Linked DNA regions of Homo sapiens. The protein of the gene in region 2 purifies or fractionates together with the protein of the main gene of each other region. This does not show direct contact. Each region holds a gene or a part of one and is shown on either strand. Other genes may lie near its edges.

Region 1 (3,816 bases), on a different chromosome or scaffold from region 2:
GCAGAAAAAATTTCTAAGCAGCAAAGCATTCAAGAGGTGACCCAGCTGATTCTGAAAGCACTCAGTCATGTGTGTTCACAAAGAGATGCCTTCACATTGGAACTTATGTTTAAAAGGGAAGCAGAGCATAAAGGTTTGGAAAATTTGCAGTCTGACCATGTGGGAGAAAAGAAAAAACCATTTTCTGGGGAGGAATTCAAGCTGGCTATAGCAATTTGCATGAGCAATGATGAGCCAAATGTCAATAGACAAGACAATGGGGAAAATGTCTCCAGGGCATGTCAGAGATCTTCCCTAGGAGGAAAAATGGTTTAGTGGGCTGGGTGGGCCCCACTGCTCTGTGCAGCCCTGGAACATGGTACCCTACATCCCAGCTGCTCCAGCTCCAGCCATGGCTAAAAGGAATAAAGGTACAGCTTGGGCTGTTGCTTCAGAGGGTGCAAGCCCCGAGCGTTGCCAGCTTCCACGTGATGTTGGGCCTGAGGGTGCACAAAAGACAAGAGGTGAGGTTTGGGAGCTTCTGCATAGATTTCAGAGGATGTTAGGAAACGCCTAGATGGCCAGGCAGAAGTCTGCTGCAGGGGTAGAGCCCTCATGGAGAACCTCTGCTAGGGCAGTGCTGAAGGGAAATGTGGGCTTGGAGCCCCCACAAAGAGTCACCACTAGGGAACTGTTTAGTGGAGCTGTAAGAAGAGGGCCACTGTCCTCTAGACCCCAGAATGGTAGCTCCACTGACAGCCTGCACCATGCACCTGGAAAAGTCACAGGCACTCAATGCCAGCCCATGAAAGCAGGCACAGTGCCTATCCCCTGCAGAGCCACAGGGTTGGAACTGCCCAAGGCTGTGGGAGCCTAGCCCTTGTATCAGCATGGCCTGGATGTGAGACATGGAGTCAAAGGAGATTTTGGAGCTTTAAGATTTAATGACTGCCCGGCTGGGTTTTGGACTTGCATGGGGCCTATGGCCCCTTTGTTTTGTCCAATTTCTCCCATTTGGAATGGGGACATTTACCCAATGCCTATACCCCATCGTATCTTGGAAGTAACTAACTTGCTTTTGATTTTACAGGTTCATAGGCAGAAGGGACTTGACTTGTCTCAGATGAGACTTTGGACGTGGACTTTTGAGTTAATGCTGGAATGAGTTTTAAGACTTTGGAGGGCTGTTGGGAAGGGATGATTGGTTTTGAAATGTGAAAAGGACATGAGATTTGGGAAGGGTCGGGGCAGAATGATATGGTTTGGCTCTATGTCCCTACCCAAATCTCATTTGCAATTGTAATCCACAAGTATTAGGGAGGGACTGGTGGGAGATGAATGGATTATGGGGGCACTTTTCCCCATGCTGTCCTCGTGATAGTGACTTCTCACAAGATCTGATGGTTTAAAAGTGTTTGGCAGTTCCCTCTTTGCTTTCTTTGCTCTCCTGCCGCCATGTAAGACATGCCTTGCTTCCCCTTTGCCTTCCACCCTGATTTTACATTTCCTTAGGCCTCCCCAGCTATGAGGAACTGTCAGTCAATTAAACCTCTTTTGTTTATAAATTACAGTCTCAGGTGGTATCTTTATAGCAGTGTGAGGACAGACTAATACAAGCCCACATGTGATACTGGTATAGTCTAATTTAGCATATAGTAATTTTAACAAGTCACTGTTCAAATGAAGAAAACTCTTCACTGTTTGTTCAACTATTTGCTTTTTGATAGAATTTCCATTCCCTGGACTTTAAGGACTATAGCACTTGTTTAAGCTCATGGGTTTTGAAAAGATAGCCTCAGTAAAAATACTGGCTCTACGATTTAGCAGTTATGTGATTTGGGGAATGCTTTCTCAATTTCCGAGCTTTGGCTTCCTTATCTATAAAATATCAGAGATTAAGCCGACATATATGGTAGCTATTTTCATTATTACTAATAATAACATAAGTAAAAATGTCAAGATTTAAGCTGAACTTATTAGTATGACAGGGTAACAGAATAAAAAACCTTCAAGGGTATGTTCTTGGACATGCCAATTACTATAGACAATTTAAGTTTTTAAATACTTAATTGACAAAAAGTATATATATTTAAGGTGTACAAGGTCACTTGATATACACTGTGTAATGATTACCACAATTAAGTTAACACGTCCATCACCACTAATAGTTACCACTGTGTGTGTGTGTGTGTGTGTGTGTGTGTGTGTGTTTGTAGTAAGAATACTTAAAATCTGCTCTCTTGTCAAATTTGAATTGAAGAATCCTGTCATTTATGACAAGATAAATGAACCTGGAGGACATTATGCTAAGTGAAATAAGCCAAGCACAGAAAGACAAATATCACATGATCTCACTTATATGTAGAATCTAAAAAAGTTGAGGGTGGTTGCCAGGGGCTGGGGAGTGTAGAGCTGTTGGTTTAAGGGTATGAACTTTCAGCTATAAGTTCTGGGGATCTAATGTACAGCATGGTAACTATAGCTAACTGCATTTTTTATTATGGCTATTTGGAAATTAAACATTACAGATGCCTGTCTTTGCTCTCCATCCCGGAGACTCACCATACTCCTTTGCTAGAGACACGCAACCCCTGTAGAAGCAGGACCTAGATCAGACAAAGCCATTACCTCATACTTCCGTTCCCCTAATGGTCTTTTTGTCTTACATCTCTGTTTTTACTATCTGTAAAAGTTCTCCCTCCCTTTTATCTTTGGCATGCAAACAATCATCAAATTCTATCAATTTTATCTTCTATCTCTTAACTTCATCTGTTCCTTCCCCACTGACATAGCCCAGACATGCACCATCTTTCAACTAGACAACTACAATAGCCTCAGAATTGGACTGGTCTCCTTGCCTCTAGAGTTCCCCCATATAATCCATCTCCATGCCATCCTCAGATGGGTCAATGGAAAATAAAATTCTGTTTATTCCATTTTTGGCTTAAAATTCTTCAATGACTCCCCATCACCAATAGGATAAAATCCAAGATTCCTACTATAGAAAATAAAACCCTTCAGGCCTACCTTCTCTGATCTTATCATATACCATTTCATCTAGCCTCCATCTCTCAGACTTCTTGATTTACTAATACCTGTTTATTTGTATGAAACAATACACCATGATATTTATCTTTTACATCCTGGACTGGTACCAATGTTATTCTTCACATCCAGAATGTTTCAATTCTACTGTCTTTGATTTAGATGGAGAATTGCTACTCTTCTGTTATACCCCTCTCCGTAAGGTTCTCTGACTCCTAGATTGGGCTCATTTCTCCTTTCTGTTATTTCTAGACTTTGGATATATTAGTACATACGCCACACTACACTGTCATTTGTTTACATGCTTTTCTCCTTTACCTGACAGTGATTCCTCCAGGATGACAAATACTTTTAGTCAACTCTGGATCCTTAGTGCCTTGGCATAAAATAGAATGTCAGTAACATTTAATACAAATATTAAGTATAAATATAATAATTATTATTACTACTAATTCTTTTACTTCTTCTATGCTAGTTCCTCTGTGTTTGACACCTTGTCTCCCTTTTGCCTCCTCCCCATAGAATAGCTTTTACCCTAAACTCCAGTCTCTGTGGCTGGATCCCACACCACATACTTCCATATATCTTGTCATGCACCACCTGCCTCCTAAGATTAGCACCAGTTGCAGGTTGTCACACCACTCTTTCTTGTGTTCTACCTGCTTATGAAACTCCCACCTATAGCCCATCTGCCCTGGCCCTTGTTGATGCCAATTTCCAATAGCCAGACTCCAGCCCTTCCCAAATCTCTCCTCTCTCTAACTGCTGCAACCTCTTAGGGTCAACTGCCAT
Region 2 (3,816 bases):
CTTGAAGATGGACATAAGATGAGGTGGCTCCTTGCCCATTGGGACCCGGATCTGGACTGGTTCACCATTGTACTTCTGGTCCAGGATGACGGCTTGATAAGCTGATGCTGTAATTTCATCTTGGCTGGCCTGGCTGCCCTGGGGATGAGCAGGAGGGAGTGAGTGGGATTGGGTCAGCCCCCAATTCTGACCCCATCCTCAGCCTCAGCAACAACTCCATCCTCAAGTCTGAACTGGTCCTAAACCCAATTGTCTTCCCCACCAAACTCCACTGTGAAACAGCCAAAACCCCAATCTGAACCATACCTCAGTTCTGATCTCAACCTCAAACCTAATTCTTTCCCAGACCCAGCCCAGCCCTGACCTACCTGCAACCCCAGCCTTAACCCCAAACCTCCTCCTTTCCTTTCTGCTCCTTCTTCAGGGAGACATCACAGGCACCACACCACTCAGTCCTAGACACACTCCCTGCTCCCTCGCATCTAGACACAAAAACCCATGGGCAGAGCAGGTGACAAGAATGTGCAGAAGGCAATGAAAATTGGAAGGGAGACTCAGAGAACCAAAAGGAAAAGGGCTGTGAATGGGGGTACTAGCGGGACCTCATAGCCAAAGCAGTCCTTCTTGAAGGGGTGAGCACCCCATCCCCAGAGGTATTCAACCCAAGGGTGATGGCCACTTAGCAGGAGTATGTACAAGGCAGAGCTAAGCCGGCTGTGCTCTGGGTGGGACGTGGCGGGACCTGACCTGCCAAACGTAGAGCAGGTAATGCTGCTTCTCGCCGATGAGGTAGGTGTAGAGCAGCAGGTAGCAGTCGCCCCCATAGAAGTGGCCTAGCCACTTGGAATCCACAGGTACCAGCTCTAGGTTCTCAATGCGCCACACCTAGGGCCAGTATCAGGCCAGGGTGAGGTCCAGGACAGGCTCCACCATTCCTGCTCCACCCAGCACGGGCCTCTCTGCCCTCACATACCTGCACTTCCCCACTCCCATCATCTACCATCTTCTGCTGGGCAGCCACCTGAGGCTTGACATGCATGGATGTGGCATCGAACTTCACCTGTTCCACTTTGGCTAGAGTGGGGGAAATCATGAAACCAACTGTCACCAGCTGAGGTCTCCCAGGTCCTCACAACAGCCCTGAATGGTGGCTACAATTCTTAGACTCATTTTCAGATGAGGAAACCGAGGCAAGAGAGATTCAGTAGCTTACCTGGTTGCACAGAATGTGGCAGAGCTACAATAGAGAACCACATCTCCCTCCCTCTAAAACTCCTGCTCCCAGGGAGCCAGGAGAGGCATAAGAGCAAGGCTTTAGCTTTGTTGATCTACGTCCTGACCCCTGCAGCATTCAGACTTCAAGCCTTGACCTTGTCTCCCAGCTCAATAGGGAGCTGTGCAATGTTGGGGGCTGTACACTATTACTTGTCCTCTCCTAGGTGCTGGGCACCGAGCTTGCCCTCAGCAAATACTGGCTGGTAAGAGACTGAAGCTGTTCGGTTTTCAGGGAGGCCCAACCCCATCCCAAATGAAATATCACATCACTGACAGCTCCCCTTTTTTTTTTTTTTTTTTTTTTGAGATGGAGTTTCGCTCTTGTTGCCCAGGCTGGAGTGCAATGGCATGATCTTGGCTCACTGCAGCCTCTGCCTCCTGAATTCAAGCGATTCTCCAGCCTCAGCCTTCTGAGTAGCTGGGGTTACAGGCATGCACCACCATGCTTGGCTAATTTATTAGTTCTTTTTTTCAGTAGAGACGGGGTTTCACCATGTTAGGCTAATCTCAAACTCCTGACCTCAGGTGATCCACCCGCCTCAGCCTCCCAAAGTGCTGGGATTACAGGCATGTGCCACCATGCCCAGCCCTCTCAGCTCCCTTTTTGTGACAACTAGAGTTTGTCCACGTCCCCATCTGCTAGGACAAGCCCAGAGCCAGCGTAAAAGTCTTCGTTGAAGATGCACGTCAGGGAAGGAGGGTGGGTGGTGGACCAAGTGGCTCTCCTGGCCCAGCTCCTGGATCCTGGCTCCCTCACTGCCCCCGCCTGGCCCTCACCCACGGAGCCCACAGTGTGGGTTTTGCCTAGGCCTGAGGTCCGGTTGGACGCTGTCCACTTCTGGAAGAGCTGCTGAAAGACGGCCGACTCAGCCCCATCATTCTGCACCTCCACCTGTGTGCTTGGTGGGTACTGCTTGGCTTTGATGAAGTTCTGGAAGAGAAAGGGGTGGCTGGAAGCTATGCACCTCCCCTAGTCCCCACTCCCAATGCAAGCCAAAACCTAGCTCTAACCTAACCAGATCCACCATCAGATCTACCCCGGCACCAAAACTGAACCCAAACCCAATCCCAATGCTAATCCCCAACCTAACCCTACTCTGACCCCAGCCTCAAGGTCAAATCTGATACCGCCTGAAACCTAACACTGGCCTCAAGACTCACTCTGACCTCAGCTTCAAATCTAATACCGAAACACAACTCTGACCCCAATCCCAAAGCCAAATCTAACGCCTAATGTGACCCTACCTCAATGCTAATCCTAATGCCCAGTCCCCAATCCAACACTGGCCCCAAGCCAGTTAGGGTTACGACTCCAGCCCCAGCAATGACCCCAAACTCTGACTTGGCCCTGGTCTGAGCTGACCCAATCCCCTTTTGTAGGAAGCCAGCCTCCCTCCATTTCTCCTTCCCTTCTCCAAACTCAGCTCAGGTGCAGGGAGGTGAGAGCCCACATCCTGAGGTGGCCCCAGGGTTGCCTGGTGGTTGGCTCCCTGGTGTGCAGAGAACCCCGAAGATGACCACAGAATGGCCCCTCAGGCCCCTCCCATTGGGCCGGGCCCAGCCCTCATCCTGCTCCTCCCAGCCTTCCCTGCCTCTGCCTGGCACTATGCCCTGGTCTGAGCCTGCCTGCCCACCCCATGCTGCTATCTGCTCTCTCCCTCCCATCACTCTGCCCTCCTCCTGGACCCTCCCCCGCCCCCACCACTACCAGCGCATGGCTCATGGCTCCCTTCTTCTCCTGCTCATTGGCTTTCTTCCCTTTCCACACGTAGATCTTCAGGCCCCCCTGGTCCAGGATGTAACAGTCCTAGAGTCGGGAGAGGTAAGAGTCTGATGGAGCTGGAGGTGCTGGACTGGGAAAGCCTCACACACAAAAAAGTCTCTCCCTCCCAGGCCCACCCCAAGCCCCCTGGAATTTTTCCTGCTTGAGGGAAAGGGGGCCAGGCTGCAGTAGGCTGAGGGGTCTCCAGACCCTCTTACCTCGTGACTGAGCAGGTCCTGTGTCAGTGGCCGTGTGGCGACTTCCCTCACCACCAGATTCCCCTCGGAGTCAGACACACTGCAGGACAGAAGCAAGGCATAGATGGGGAGGGGGCCCAAGTCCCTCAGCCAGGGCACCTTCTCCCAGGGAGTCCCCAGCACCCAGGAAGACCCCGCTGGGCGCTCACTGGTACAGTTTGAGTGCAGCCTTGAGTGCCGGCTCCACCACCGTGTCGGGCACGGCCGCCTTCAGCTCCCTGCGCTTGCCCAGCACGTGGTTCATCACCTCCATCAGCTTCGGGGATGCCAATTCATTCTCTCCGTCCACCACGCCTACATAGGTGCGCCCTCCCCGCTCCTGGTCTCGGATCTCCTTGGCCAGAGTCATGCCCTGCAGGAAGGCCCCTGGTGACCCATCGGGAGTAGTCGGGGAATGAGGCAGTGTCTGCCACCCTACACCCTGCCAGGCAAGCCCAGACCACCTACAGCAGCCACAGGGGTTGAGACCCCTGCCCTGCTTTTCCCCGTCGGAGGGGTCAAGCTTTTAAGGCATGTAAGGAA

The links.
Region 1: the proteins of VIL1 (region 2) and CHM fractionate together in Homo sapiens (co-fractionation; one large-scale study listed by BioGRID). This does not show direct contact.

What each region holds. Positions count from the first base shown.
Region 1 is NC_000023.11:85,865,866-85,869,681, forward strand, and holds part of CHM (rab proteins geranylgeranyltransferase component A 1), read right to left. Parts: intron 1-3,816. UniProt on the Homo sapiens protein: Substrate-binding subunit of the Rab geranylgeranyltransferase (GGTase) complex.
Region 2 is NC_000002.12:218,429,115-218,432,930, reverse strand, and holds part of VIL1 (villin-1), read right to left. Parts: intron 3,647-3,816; coding exon 3,444-3,646; intron 3,335-3,443; coding exon 3,256-3,334; intron 3,083-3,255; coding exon 2,984-3,082; intron 2,207-2,983; coding exon 2,053-2,206; intron 1,075-2,052; coding exon 974-1,074; intron 886-973; coding exon 748-885; intron 139-747; coding exon 1-138.